Linked DNA regions of Homo sapiens: all the other regions are linked to region 2. Evidence: fine-mapped expression QTL. A gene starts in region 2. Each other region holds a variant in brackets. All regions are shown on one strand. Distances are from middle to middle.

What was found. PIP is the estimated chance that this variant, and not a neighbour inherited with it, causes the effect. A credible set is the group of variants that fine-mapping cannot tell apart.
Region 1: its variant is the best candidate, but not a certain one, in a credible set for the expression of PTGES3 in monocytes (Quach 2016, PIP 0.69).
Region 3: its variant is the best candidate, but not a certain one, in a credible set for the expression of PTGES3 in whole blood (INTERVAL, PIP 0.82).

What each region holds. Positions count from the first base shown.
Region 1 is chr12:56,753,995-56,758,226 of GRCh38, forward strand. No RefSeq gene overlaps it. Among named protein-coding and RNA genes, the nearest start is that of PRIM1, 3.8 kb to the left of the region's middle. The variant CTCTT/C (reference allele first, on the strand shown) is at 2,519.
Region 2 is chr12:56,686,719-56,690,950 of GRCh38, forward strand. It overlaps PTGES3 (prostaglandin E synthase 3), which reads right to left and starts at 1,566. Exons shown (of 8, transcript NM_006601.7): 1 at 1,280-1,566. The coding sequence starts at 1,281. RefSeq lists enhancers at 673-722, 833-952, 1,451-1,976, 2,453-2,502, 3,029-3,554 and a silencer at 1,613-1,802.
Region 3 is chr12:56,424,413-56,428,644 of GRCh38, forward strand. It overlaps TIMELESS (timeless circadian regulator), which reads right to left. Exons shown (of 29, transcript NM_003920.5): 12 at 4,137-4,232; 13 at 3,824-3,993; 14 at 603-740; 15 at 350-501. Among named protein-coding and RNA genes, the nearest start is that of TIMELESS, 23 kb to the right of the region's middle. RefSeq lists an enhancer at 1-173. The variant T/A (reference allele first, on the strand shown) is at 1,706.

The DNA of each region.
Region 1 (4,232 bases), 67 kb after region 2:
GAAGGGAACCCATCTGCTATTGATGTGGAGATCTGCCAATCACTCTTACTGTGTAATGATACCTTATGGCAATTGTGGGCTAGAGTGGGCAGTCACATGAATAACATGTCACATGAAAAACATAGTTTTATTTTATTTTACTTATTTTTTTGAGACAGAGTCTCGCTGTGTCGCCCAGGTTGGAATGCAGTGGCACAATCATGGCTCACTGCAACCTTGGTCACCCAGGCTCAAGCAATTCTCATGCCTCAGCCTCCCAAATAGCTAGGATTACAGGTGTGCACTGCCACACCCAGCTAACTTTTGTATTTTTAGTAGAGACAGGGTTTCACTATGTTGGCCAGGCTGGTCTCAAACTCCTGGCCTCAAGTGATCCACCTGCTTTGGCCTCCTAAAGTGCTGGGATTACTTGTGTGAGCCACTACCTCTAGCCTTGTCTAGCACTTTTATCTTATGGAGATGGCTTCTCTCCTTAAACCTCATGAACCAACTTCTGCTGGCTTCAAACTTCTGCAGCTTTCTCACCTGTCTCAGCTTTCATATAATTAAAGAGAGTAACCTTGCTATGGGTGAGGCTTTGGCTTAAGGGAAGTTATGGCTGGTTTGATCTTCTATTCAGCACACTAAAAGTTTCTCCATATCAGCAATAAGGCTGTTTCACCTTCCTATCATTTGTGTGTTCCCTGAAGTAGCACTTGTAATTTTCTTCAGGAACTTTTCCGGGAAGGAACTTTTCCAGGCCAGGCCTGATAGCTTACACCTGTAATCCCAGCTCTTTGGGAGGCCAAGGTGGGCAGATCGCTTGAGTCAGGGAGTTCAAGACCAGTTTGGGCAACATGGCAAAACCCTGTCTCTACCAAACCAAACCAAACAAACAAAAAAGCCCAGAAAAATTAACAGGGTGTGGTGGCATGCATCTGTGGCCTCAGCTGCTCAGGAGGCTGAGGTGGGAGGATCACTTGAGTCAGACAGGCAGAGGTTGCAGTGAGCCAGTATCGTGCCATTACACTCCAGCCTGGGTGACAGAGTAACACTCTGTCTCAAATTTAAGGCCGAGTGCAGTGGCTCACGCCTGTAATGCCAGCACTTTGGGAGGCCAAGGTGGGAGGATTGCCTGAGTCCAGGAGTTTGAGACCAGCCTGGGCAACATAGCGAGACCTCATCTCTACAAAAACTACAAAAATTAGCCAGGTGTGGTGGCGCAGGCCTGTGGTGCCAGCTACTTGGGAGGCTGGGGTGGGAGGATCACCTGAGCCCAGGAGGCGGAGGGTGCAGTGAGCCAAGATTAGGGCACTGCACTCCAACCTGGGCAACAGACTGAGACCTGTCTCAAAAAAACAGAACTTTTCCTTCGTATTTACAACTTGGCTAATTGCTTGGTGCAAGGGGCCTAGGTTTTGGTCTGTCTCAGCTTTCAACATTCCTTTCTCACTAAGCTTAATCATTTCTACGTTTTGATTTAAAGTGAGAGATGTGGGGCTCTTTTTGTCACTTGAATACTTAGAGGTCATTGTAGGGTTGTTAATTGGCTTAGTTTCAATATTGTTGTGTCTTAGGGAATAGGGAGGCCTGAGGAGAGGGAGAGAGAGAGGAGAACAGCATATTGGCAGAACAGTCAGAACACACACAACATTTATTGATTAAGTTTGTCTTCTTATATAGGCACAGTTCGTTGCACCCCCAAACAATTACAATAGTACCTCAAAGATCACTGATCACGGATCACCGTAACAGATACAATAATAATGAAAAAGTTTGAAATATTGCAAGGATTACCAAAATGTGACATAGAGACATGAAGCAAACACATGCTGTTGGAAAAATTGCACTAATAGACTCACTGTATGTAGGGTTGCCACAAAGCTTCAATGTGTAAAAAATGCAATATCTTTGGAGCATAATAAAGTGAAGCACAATAAAATGAGGTATTCCTGTATATAGCTTTTGCCATGATGTCAGGTACCATTTTATGAATTTATCCCTCATGAGAACTCTATGCGGTAGTTGCCAACATCATCCCTATTTTCTTTTTCTTTTCTTTTCTTTTTTTTGAGACGGAGTCTTTTTCAGTCGCCCAGGCTGGAGTGCAGTGACGCGATCTTGGCTTACTGCAAGCTCCGTCTCCTGGGTTCACGCTATTCTCCTGCCTCAGTCTCCTGAGTGGCTGGGACTACAGGTGTCCGCCACCACGCCCGGCTAATTTTTTTTGTATTTTTTTAGTAGAGATGGGGTTTCACCATGTTAGCCAGGATGGTCTCGATCTCCTGACCTTGTGATCCACCCGCCTCAGCCTCCCAAAGTGCTGGGATTACAGGCGTGAGCCACCACGCCTAGCCTCTTTTTTTTTTTTTTTTTTTTTTTAACGCTTTTCCTGTTTGGAAGGAAAAAGTGCAGCTCGCTGCCAGCAGTCATTTAATTTTACATAAGCATGCTCTTTGAGGCTGAAACAAATCTGACTGATTTCCAATGTGAAAATAAAATATAAAAACTGTTCTTGGAGTTCTTTCTCTCTCTCTCT[CTCTT/C]TCTTTCTTTCTCTTTCTTTTTCTTTCTCTCTCTCTCTCTCTCTTTCTCTCTCTTTCTTTCTTTTGAGGTAGAGTCCCGCTCAGTCGCCCAGGCTGGAATGCAGTGGTGCAATCTCGGCTCACTGCACCCTCTGCCTCCCAGGCTCGAGCCATTCTCCTGCCTCAGCCTCCTGAGTAGCTGGGATTACAGGTGCCTGCCCACATGCCCGGCTAATTTGTGTATTTTTAGTAGAGATGGGGTTTCACCATGTTGGCCAGTCTGGTCTTGAACTCCTGACCTGAGGCGACCCACCCACCTCATCCTCCCAAAGTGCTGGGATTACAGGTGGGAGCCACTGCGCCTGGCCTCTTGGAGTTATTTCTAAACAGAACTAACATTAAAGTCATTGGAATAATTAGAATTGTGGATTAATCAAAGAATGATGTTAACATCATACATAGGAATTCAGCATTTTCTAGGATTTGACAGTTTTAATGATCAGAATTACTGTATTTTGTAAGTGGAAGTACCACTACTGAAAACAGAATGCTGTTAATAGAATGATGTCTTTTGTTTCCAAAGTCAGTAATACTAGAGCAATATGAAAATAATAAAAGCAAGATATTTCACGGCAAAGTTATCTCTGGATAAATGCTGCAGCTACAAGTGCTGCCAGCAAGTATTCTTGGGGCAAATGGGAAAAGGGTTAAATTTTAAATTTATTGTTATTTTTATTTTTTGTAGAGATGGGATCTCACCGTGTTGTCCAGGCTGGTCTCGAACTTCTGGGCTCAAGCAATCAGCCCACCTCGGGTATATTAAGTATATTCAGAGGAACGGGCCAGGCCAGGTGGCTCATGCCTGTAATCCCAGCACTTTGGGAGGCCGAGACAGGCAGATAATGAGGTCAGGAGTTTGAAACAAGCCTGGCCAGCATAGTGAAACCCCATCTCTACTAAAAATACAAAAAAATTACTAGCCGGGCGTGGTGGCATGTGCCTGTAGTCCCAGCTACTCGGGAGGCTGAGGCAGGAGAATCGCTTGAACCAGGGAGTCGGAGGTTGCAGTGAGCTGAGATGGCGCCACTGTACTGCAGACTGGCGACAGAGTGAGACTCCATTTCAAAAAAAAAAAAAAAAAAAAAAAAAGTGCTCTGGCATAGAGGCCTTTATCTCAAATGCCACTGGGAGGCAGTATCACCATTCAGTTTGTTTCCCTTTGTGATTTCATACACATAGGTGCAAACCCCTTTTTTCCTTCAGTCCTTATGCTACCTGGCTCTACCATCGTTTTTAGTCTTTTTTTGTGGTATATCTATCAGCCTCAAGTTTCTTGCCCCATGTTGTTTGCAGACTTCGACACTTGCCTCATTGATTGCCTGTCTAGTTTAAGTCCTATTGTTATTCTGGGTGTTTTTAGCATCTGAAAGGATGATCTATTCTGTAAAGGTATGGTTGATTCAGTCATTCATGAATTCATTCATTTATTCCACAAATAGTTAATGAACATATGTGTTGGGCACTGAGATGAACTGTGGGGAAAATAATTAATGACATTATTTCTGCTTCTGAGAAAGCTATATCATACTAGGGGCAATAGACACAAATAAAAAAGTGTAATGAATGAGCTGGGCATGGTGGCTCATGTCTGTAATCCTAGCATTTTGATAGGCAGAGGCAGGTGGATCACTTGAGCTCAGAAGTTTGAGACCAGCCTGGCCAACATGGCGA
Region 2 (4,232 bases):
GGAGGGGGCTCCTTCAAAAATTCTAACATGCTGTGCTCTAGAAGCTTGTTCCCAGTGATAAACTCGCTTCAGCCTCACGCATCCCTTTAGATTTCTAGCCAATATACTCAGCCTCAGTATCATGACTTGAATCAAGCAAATCCTTATTACTTTTCCAAAGACATAAAGTCACTCCCCTCTTCTCTCTTCTGAATGGAGTCTAAAACAAAAGAAAAAAAAGGTTCCACCTTAATTGTTCTCCATACCTTTTAGGACGTAGTTAGTACCTTGAAAAATAACCTCCCGTCAAAAAAAAAAAAAAAAAAAAAAAAACCCTGTAAAACCGGCAGTTCCCACTGTACGCGGCAGTGCCAAGAATTCTTACCGGTTAAAATCGCCAAGGCTTTCCTTTATCATCGTAAAATGAAGACTGCCATAGAATCTGTATTCACCTCCACACAAATTTAAGATCTTTGGGACGACTGTAGGTTAATTAAATGCCTACTACATACCTATTTCATCCTACACTGTAACAAGATAGTGAAACCTCACCTCAAGTAGAACATGAAACACAGAAAATGTCCGTATCTTTCCAAAGTCGACACGTGCGGAACTACCTGCTCAATGGTAACTCCTCCTCGCTGCCAGGGAAGCGGCTGAGTTTTGGCAACCTCCCGTGTTTTCAAGAGACTGGAGTTAGGAGGCGGACTGGAAGTACCCACACTCAAGAAACCCAGACACTGGAGAGGGAAGTATGTTGCGGCGTGGGCATGGCTTCCTTCTAGTTGCCTAGCAGTACCTGCAGCTCACGGCGAGGTCCGCGTGGGGCTCTCCCAGGAGCTCCGCCAGGCACCTGGCGGCACCCACCACAGGTGCACTCGACTCAGGGCCTGGCCCCGGGACCACAAAGCAACAGAACCGGAGCGCCCAAGCAGCCGAGAGGCGACCCACGAAGGTTCACGCTTCAGGGCGCCGCATGGCGAGCAGCTACCGGGAGCTTAAGGCCTAGGGTGAAGTTACCGAAAGAGGCGAGTAACCCAGACAGCCAAAGGGGTAAAAGTAGGATTTCCGGCATGGGGAAGCCAAGGAACGGTTCAGGGGTGGGGGAAGCAGACATCTGGAGGAAAAATGTCCTCCACCCGCCAACGGTAACCGGAACAAGGATCCTGGACCTCCCGCCCCCAGGCAGGAACGACTGCCACCACCGATGCGAGAAAGGCTAGGGGGCCGCTTCCAGGGAGCCCCCAACGCGGCCTCGGCCTCACTCGGCGACCTTCCCTCGGCGGGGTGTCGCACTCACATTGTGAACGGGGCAGGGGGACGGGCGAACTGGTGGGCGGGCCTCTCTGGCGGCGGCTGCTGCTAGGGAGTCGACTTCTCTCCGGTGGCGACTCCGCTTTTTCTCTCCGGTCGCGGCCTCTTCTCGCTTCCCTCAGGCGACGGCGGCAGCGGCGGGCTCGACCTCGGGCCCCAGAATGCACCGCGCGGAAAGAGCGGCTCCTCCGGTCGGGGAGAAGAGGAAAGTGTAGGAAAAGGGGCGCGAGGACGGAGAATGAACGTGCGTGCGTGCAAACGAGGGGTGGTGAGGCCGGGCGGCGGCTGGTGACGCAGCAAAATGCCCGGGCCTTGCCGCCGCGCGTGCGCAGTCCTTGTTTTTGGGCTCCGGCGCGGCTTTCTAGAGATATCTACGGAAAGGGCGGGGCCTCCCAGCTCCTTCGCGATCCTTCCTGGCGCCGGCCCCGCCCTTCGTCCGCCACCCCACCCCCACTCCGCCCCCTGCTAGTCCCTACGCGTTCCCGCCTCTCCTCCCGCTCTGTCTTCTCGCGTTAGAAAACCGTTAGTGGCCCAACTGCCCTGCCATGCGCCTTCGGCGATTTCTCTGAGAAACGGTTGCGTTGACAGTGGGAGGCAAGGCTGAGGCGGAGGGACACGGAGTCGGGATCCTGGAGAACTGAAATGGCGCGTTGGTTACTCTTGAGGGAGTAAATCAGCTCACTGAGTCATCATTCCACCACAAAAACCTGTAAAAAGCCTGTGCTGTGGAAAAGGGCTCACTTCAGAATCAAGGGCCTGGGTCCACCTCGCCATTTTTCTGAAGGTTGGAGGCTCTGTCCAGGGACAGCGGAAATTCGAGGTTCTTGGCGGAGGAGGAGCATTTGCCAATTGGGGCGGGCTTTTGCCCCTACCTTGAGACCTTAGTGCTGTAGATGAGCCAGGAAAGGTATTTGAGGGGAGAGTCTAGGTTTCTGGGAATGGAGAGAGTAGGACATTGTGTGTTTCCACGCACATCGTTTGGGGGAGAAGGGGTTCCCCGTCGCTTTGTGCAACATATTAGTAGGGTGTAGTAGGGGTAGCAACCAAGAGACCCAAAACAGTCCTGCTTAAGAAGAAGCCGCTTAACGGTGGATTGGGGAAAAATACTCTAGTGCGCTGCATTTTGAACAGGAAGGAGGTTTAACGAAAGTGCTATAAAACCTTTCTGAAGAACGGGGCTTCATAATAAGCACTAAGGTATTTAGTGTCTGTGTTGTGCAGGACAGGTAGTGGGAGCTACGAAACCTGGACCCTAGCTCAAATGCCATTAAAAAGGGAAATTGGGCGGGGCGCCCGTGGCTCACGCCTATAATCCCAGTACTTTGGGAAGTTCGGTGGGCGGATCACCTGAGGTCAGGAGTTCAGGACCAGCCCACCCAACATGGTGAAACCCCATCTCTACTAAAAATACTAATTAGCAGGGCGTGGTGGCACTTGCCTGTAATGCCAAATACTAGCTAGTATGAGGCGGGAGGATAGCTCGAACCCCGAACCCGGGAGGCGGAGGTTGCAGTGAGCACTCCAACTTGGGCGACAGAGTGAGACCCTGTGTCAAAAAAAAAAAAAAAAAGGGAAGGGGCCGGGCGCGGTGGCTCACGCCTGTAATCCCAGCACTTCGGGAGGCAGAGGCGGGCAGATCACGAGGTCAGGAGATTGAGCCCATCCTGGCTAACATGGTGAAACCCCGTCTCTACTAAAAATAAAAAAAAATCAGCCGGGTGTGGTGGCACACGCCTCTAGTCCCAGCTACTCGGGAGAGCGAGACAGGAGAATCGCTTGAACCCGGGAGGCGGAGGTTGCAGTGAGCCGAGATCGCGCCACTGCACTTCAGCCTGGGCGACAGAGTGAGTCTGGGTCTCAAAAAAAAAAAAAAAAAAAAAAGGAAGTTAACTTGGCGCACTGGTTCACGCCTGTAATCCCAACACTTTGGGAGGCCGAGGCCAGTGGATTACTGGAGATCAGGAGTTCAAGACCAGCTTGGCTAACATGGTGAAACCCCCGTCCCTACTAAAAATACAAAATATTTGGCCAGGAGCAGTAGCTGACGCCTGTAATCCCAATACTTTGGGAGGCCGAGGCGGGCGGATCACGAGGTCAGGAGTTCAAGACCAGACTGGCCAACATGGCAAAACCCCATCTCTACTAAAAATACAAAAATTAGCTGGGCGTGGTGTGCCTATAATCCCAGGTACTCAGGAGTCTTAGGTGGGAGAATCTCTTGAACCCGGAAGACGCAGGTTGCAGCGAGTCTAGATTGTACCACTGTACTCCAGCTTGGTGACAGTGAGACTCTGTGTAAAAAAAAAAAAAAAAAAAAAAAAAAGAAAAGAAAAAATAGGTCACAACCAAATAATGGTGGCACTGAATGTCAGGCTAAATTTTTTTTTTTTTTTATGTTTTTGAGACAGGGTCTCACTTTAACTCAGGCTGGAGTGCAGTAGTGGTATCACAGGTCACTGCAGTCTTGACTTCTGGGTCCAATTGATCCTCCTGTAACGACTGAATTTAAATATATGTCCAGAGTCACAAATTGCAAAAGAGAACTTTATAGACTGATTTGAGCAATTAAAAAAATTGTTAATTGAAGGTGAGAACAATCCTATTTTATAAGGGGGCTTTCTAATAAGATAACAACTTAGAAGTTGTTAATTTTGTATTAGGAAGTCAAAGGGAAAGGGTGCAAAATGGTAAAAATGTCTCCTGGAGGCCGGGCGCGGTGGCTCACGCCTGTAATCCCAGCATTTTGGGAGGCCGAGGCGGGCGAATCACCTGAGGTTGGGAGTTCGAGACCAGCCTGACCAACATGGAGAAACCCCATCTCTACTAAAAAACACAAAATTAGCCGGGCGTGGTGGCGCATGCCTGGAATCCCAGCTACCAGGGAGGCTGAGGCAGGAGAATTGCTTGAACCCAGGAGGTGGAGGTTGCAGTGAGCCGAG
Region 3 (4,232 bases), 260 kb before region 2:
TGCCACTTTAAGTGAAACAATGTATAACAAAACCAGTTTTTTTTCTCTTAACGTTATAAGAAACATGCCGTAGGTCATTTTACTCAAAGCTGCAATTACCAAGGACTTATTGATGATGTCAAGTGAGGATTTGCTTTCTTTATTTTTTTCTCAATTAACTATGCTTTTTTAATGTTTTTCAGAAACAAAAAAACCCAACAAACCAATCAAAACGCCCCAGGAGTCAGTTGGTATACAGTCCCAGAGCCTTGATGAGACAACTCTCTTTTGAAGACTGAGAACACTGTACCGCAGTGATGGCCTCCTCCTTCCCCCAAAGCCCAAGAGGATGAGCAGGCAGGGTTCTTACCGAGCAGACCTCAGGAGAGTCAGGGCCTGTGGGGCCTGGCCAGCCAGGAGACAGTCTTGGATCCGTACCATAGCTTCTGCCCGCTGCTCCTCCACTGGCACCTCTGAGGCCGCATCAAAGGGAACCACGGAGTCCATGCTGAGCTCAGAATTCTAGAGATGGATAAAGCTATGGGAGCGGAGGGAGTGGAAAACCCAGATTGTATACCCTGAGCACTATTCTCAAAAAAGACAGGGTTTCTGTAACCACCTACCTGGGCACAGCACTGTAGCTGCTCAGCCAGGGCTGGCCACACAGCCTCCACTTCTTCTGGGCTAGATGGGACATTACCAGAAACAATGGCCTGGTCTAGGACCTTCTTCTTCTTCTTCCTTCTCTTCTTTTGTTTGTTCTGTGGGGAAAGAATTGTATTAGGATGTCAAGAGAGCTAAAGAGGGCTTTCCCCATCAGTGTCTTTTCTATTACAAAACTAATTAACTGGACATTCACAGAGTGCCCATTATCTGCTATCCATCGGTAATAGAAAGCAATAGTGAACAGCATATTTCCTTCCCTTTGAGGAGCTTTTACTCTAGTGGTGGAGACAGGAAGTAGAAAGGTAATTACACTAGAGTGTGGATAAAAGCTATAATGTGAGTGAGCATAAGATGTCATGGCAAAACTCCTGACCCATTTCCTGAGTTCAGAGGTTTGCCAAAAGCAGTGCTATCTCAAGAGGTCTACAGAATAAGCAGATGCTATGAGGATCAAATAAGACACATGGAAAAGCTTCATAAAATGCAAAGCACTATGTAAATAAAGCCTCTAATTTTTTCTCCTGAAAAGTAGGACAGCCAGGCGCAGTGGCTCACACCTGTAGTCCCAACACTTTGGGAAGCCTAGGCAGGTGGATCGCTTGAGGTCAGGAGTTCAAGACCAGCCTGGGCAACACAGCGAGACCCTGTGTCTACAAAAAATACAAAAATTAGCCAGGCATGGTGGTGTGTACCTGTAGTCCCAGCTACTTGGGAGGCCGAGGCAGAAGAATCGCTTGGGCACGGGAAGGAGAGGTTGCAGTGAGCTGAGATTCAGCCACTGCACTCCAGCTTAGGTAACAGAGCGAGACCCTGCTTAAAAAAATAAATAAATAAATAAATAATTAAAAAAAAGAAAAGCAGGAGAGTGAGTCAATACCCAAATCCTGCTTCTCCCAAGTCAGGGCTGTGAACCAGTCTTTGGTGTGGGTACTGAAAAGTCAAACAGGATGAACTGAGAGGCCCCTGAAGGTCATGCTCCATTAAAGAACTTACAATCAAACACACCAAAACTTAGGAGCATGGAGTCCAGCAGATCTGGATTTGAGTATTGAATTAGTAT[T/A]ACTAACAAGACTTTGGACAAGTTGCTTAACCACTTTGGGCACATGCGCTACTGTGAGGATTACATGAAAACGTCAGCACAGTGTCTGACACACAGTAAATGCTCAATAAATGATAGTACCTAGTATTACAGATAATACCACAGAGCTCTGAGTGCAAAAATACCCTTTAGCAAAGTCTCGTTGGTACTACTGCATCTTTCAAGTCCAGTTATGACAGAATTTTAAGCTGTAGCAACTAGAGTTATAGGAAGGTTCTGGTACAAAATCTTTTTTTTTTTTTTTTTTAAGACAGAATTTCACTCTTGTTGCCCAGGCTGGAGTGCAATGGCGTGATCTCGGCTCACTGCAACCTCTGCCACCTGGGTTCAAGCGATTCTCCTGCCTCAGCCTCCCAAGTACCTGGGATTACAGGTGTGTGCCACCACGCCAGGCTAATTTTTGTTTGTTTGTTTGTTTTTTGAGACGGAGTCTTGCTCTGTTGCCCAGGCTGGAGTGCAATGGCATGATCTTGGCTCACTGCAACCTCCGCCTCCCGGGTTCAAGTGATTCTCCCACTTCAGCCTCCCAAGAAGCTGGGATTACAGGTGCGCATGACCATGCCTGGCTAATTTTTGTATTTTTAGTAGAGACAGGGTTTCACCATGTTGGCCAGGCTGGTCGTGAACTCCTGACCTCAAGTGATCTGCCCGCCTCAGCCTCCCAAAGTGCTGGGATTACAGGCATGAGCCACCGCGCCTGGCCCAAAATCTGTTTATACAAAGCAAAGTCTCTGTGTTTCCAGGATACAAATTCCTTGGAGTTTGCATTTTGTCCCAGGGTTTTTTTTATTTTAATGTGAACCAATAATTTTATTTTTCAGAGATAGGGTCTTGGTCTCACCCAGACTGGAGTGCAATGTCTCAATCACAGCTCACTGCATCCTCAAACTCCTAAGTTCCAGTGATCCTCGTGCTTCAGCCTCCTGAGCAGCTGGGACTACAGGTATGTGCCACCATGCTGGTGAATTGTTTTTGTTTTTTGTTGAGACAGAGTCTTGCTCTGTGGCCCAGACTGGAGTGCAGTGGCATGATCTTGGCCTACTGCAACCTCTGCCTCATGGGTTCAAGCAATTCTCGTGCCTCAGCTTCCCAAATAGCTGGGACTACAGGTGCGTGCCATCACACCCAGCTAATTTTTGTATTTTTAGTAGAGAAGGAGTTTTGTCATGTTGCCCAGGCTGGTCTCAAACTCCTGGCCTCAAATGATCCACCCACTGTGGCCTCCCAAAGTGCTGGGATTACAGGCATGAGCCACTGTGCCCAGCCTGTCCTAGGCTTTTCACTGATTCCACTTTGGGTTCATGGACAACTGTCACAATCCCAACTTTATGGATCTGGAGACCGACACGACCAGCTTGAGCTTATTCCAATAATAACCAATACAGGACTAGATTCCAGACTTTCTAAAGTTCAATTTAAGGCTCTCTTTGTGTTGCTGTTGAGACAGAGTCTCACTGTGTCACCCAGTCTGGAGTGCAGTGACATGATCTTGGCTCACTGCAATCTCCACCTCCTGGATTCAAGCGATTCTGTCTCAGCCTTCTGAGTAGCTGGGATTACAGGTGTGCATCAACACGCCTGGCTAATTTTTGTATTTTTAGTAGAGACGGGGTTTCACCATGTTGGCCAGGCTGGTCTTGAACCCCTGACCTCAAGTAATCTGCCCACCTTGGCCTCCTCAAGCGCGGGGATTACAGGTGTGCGCCACCATGCCTGGCCGCAATTTAAGGCTCTTTCCACCTCACCACAATGCTTTCAAGGTATAACCAGAAAATGCTATAGCATAATTATTAGACTCTAAAATTATGAATCCCCAGGGTTTTTGTACTTGGCATGTGGTAGGTGTTCAATAAATGTTTCCTGACTGAACTAAAATATTTATGGCAGATCAGAGATTATTCTAATGGGAGAAGGAAACTGTAGTAGACTCACACTGGCCAACACCCACAAACCTCTTGCTGTCGTAGTTCAGAGCACGTTTAACAGATGAACTTAAGCTGTACAAACTGTGAGAAGAAAGAGCCCCCCTTCCTTGACTCTCCCTTACAGCTCTTTCTACATTGTGGGGCTGCCCAGTACCTGCACCACCAGGTTCCCACGGCTCCGACAGAATCGCTCCAACATTTTGAGGAAGAGGTGGGTGGTCTCCACCAGGTCACGAAGGAAAGAGCGGGGCTGGCATCTCTCATCAAACTTTCGAAAAAGTGCCAGGAATAGTTCTCGGTACTCCATCACATAGAAAATATTGTCTAGGAATGGGGAAGAGAAAGGGATGGAAGGGCTATTCTGGAAAGCTTGAAAAGGAGAGATGGATGAAGCTGGGACTGGGAAGAATGAGATTCTCATCACGAGATGGGACAGGCTGGGATCGGGGACCAGGCCAGGGCCTCACTCTTGATGATGCGGCTGCTCTCCCTCACAGCCTCATCTGGAGATATGTCCATCTCATTCACTGTTGCCAGCAGCTCCTGATAGGCCTTCAGAGCCA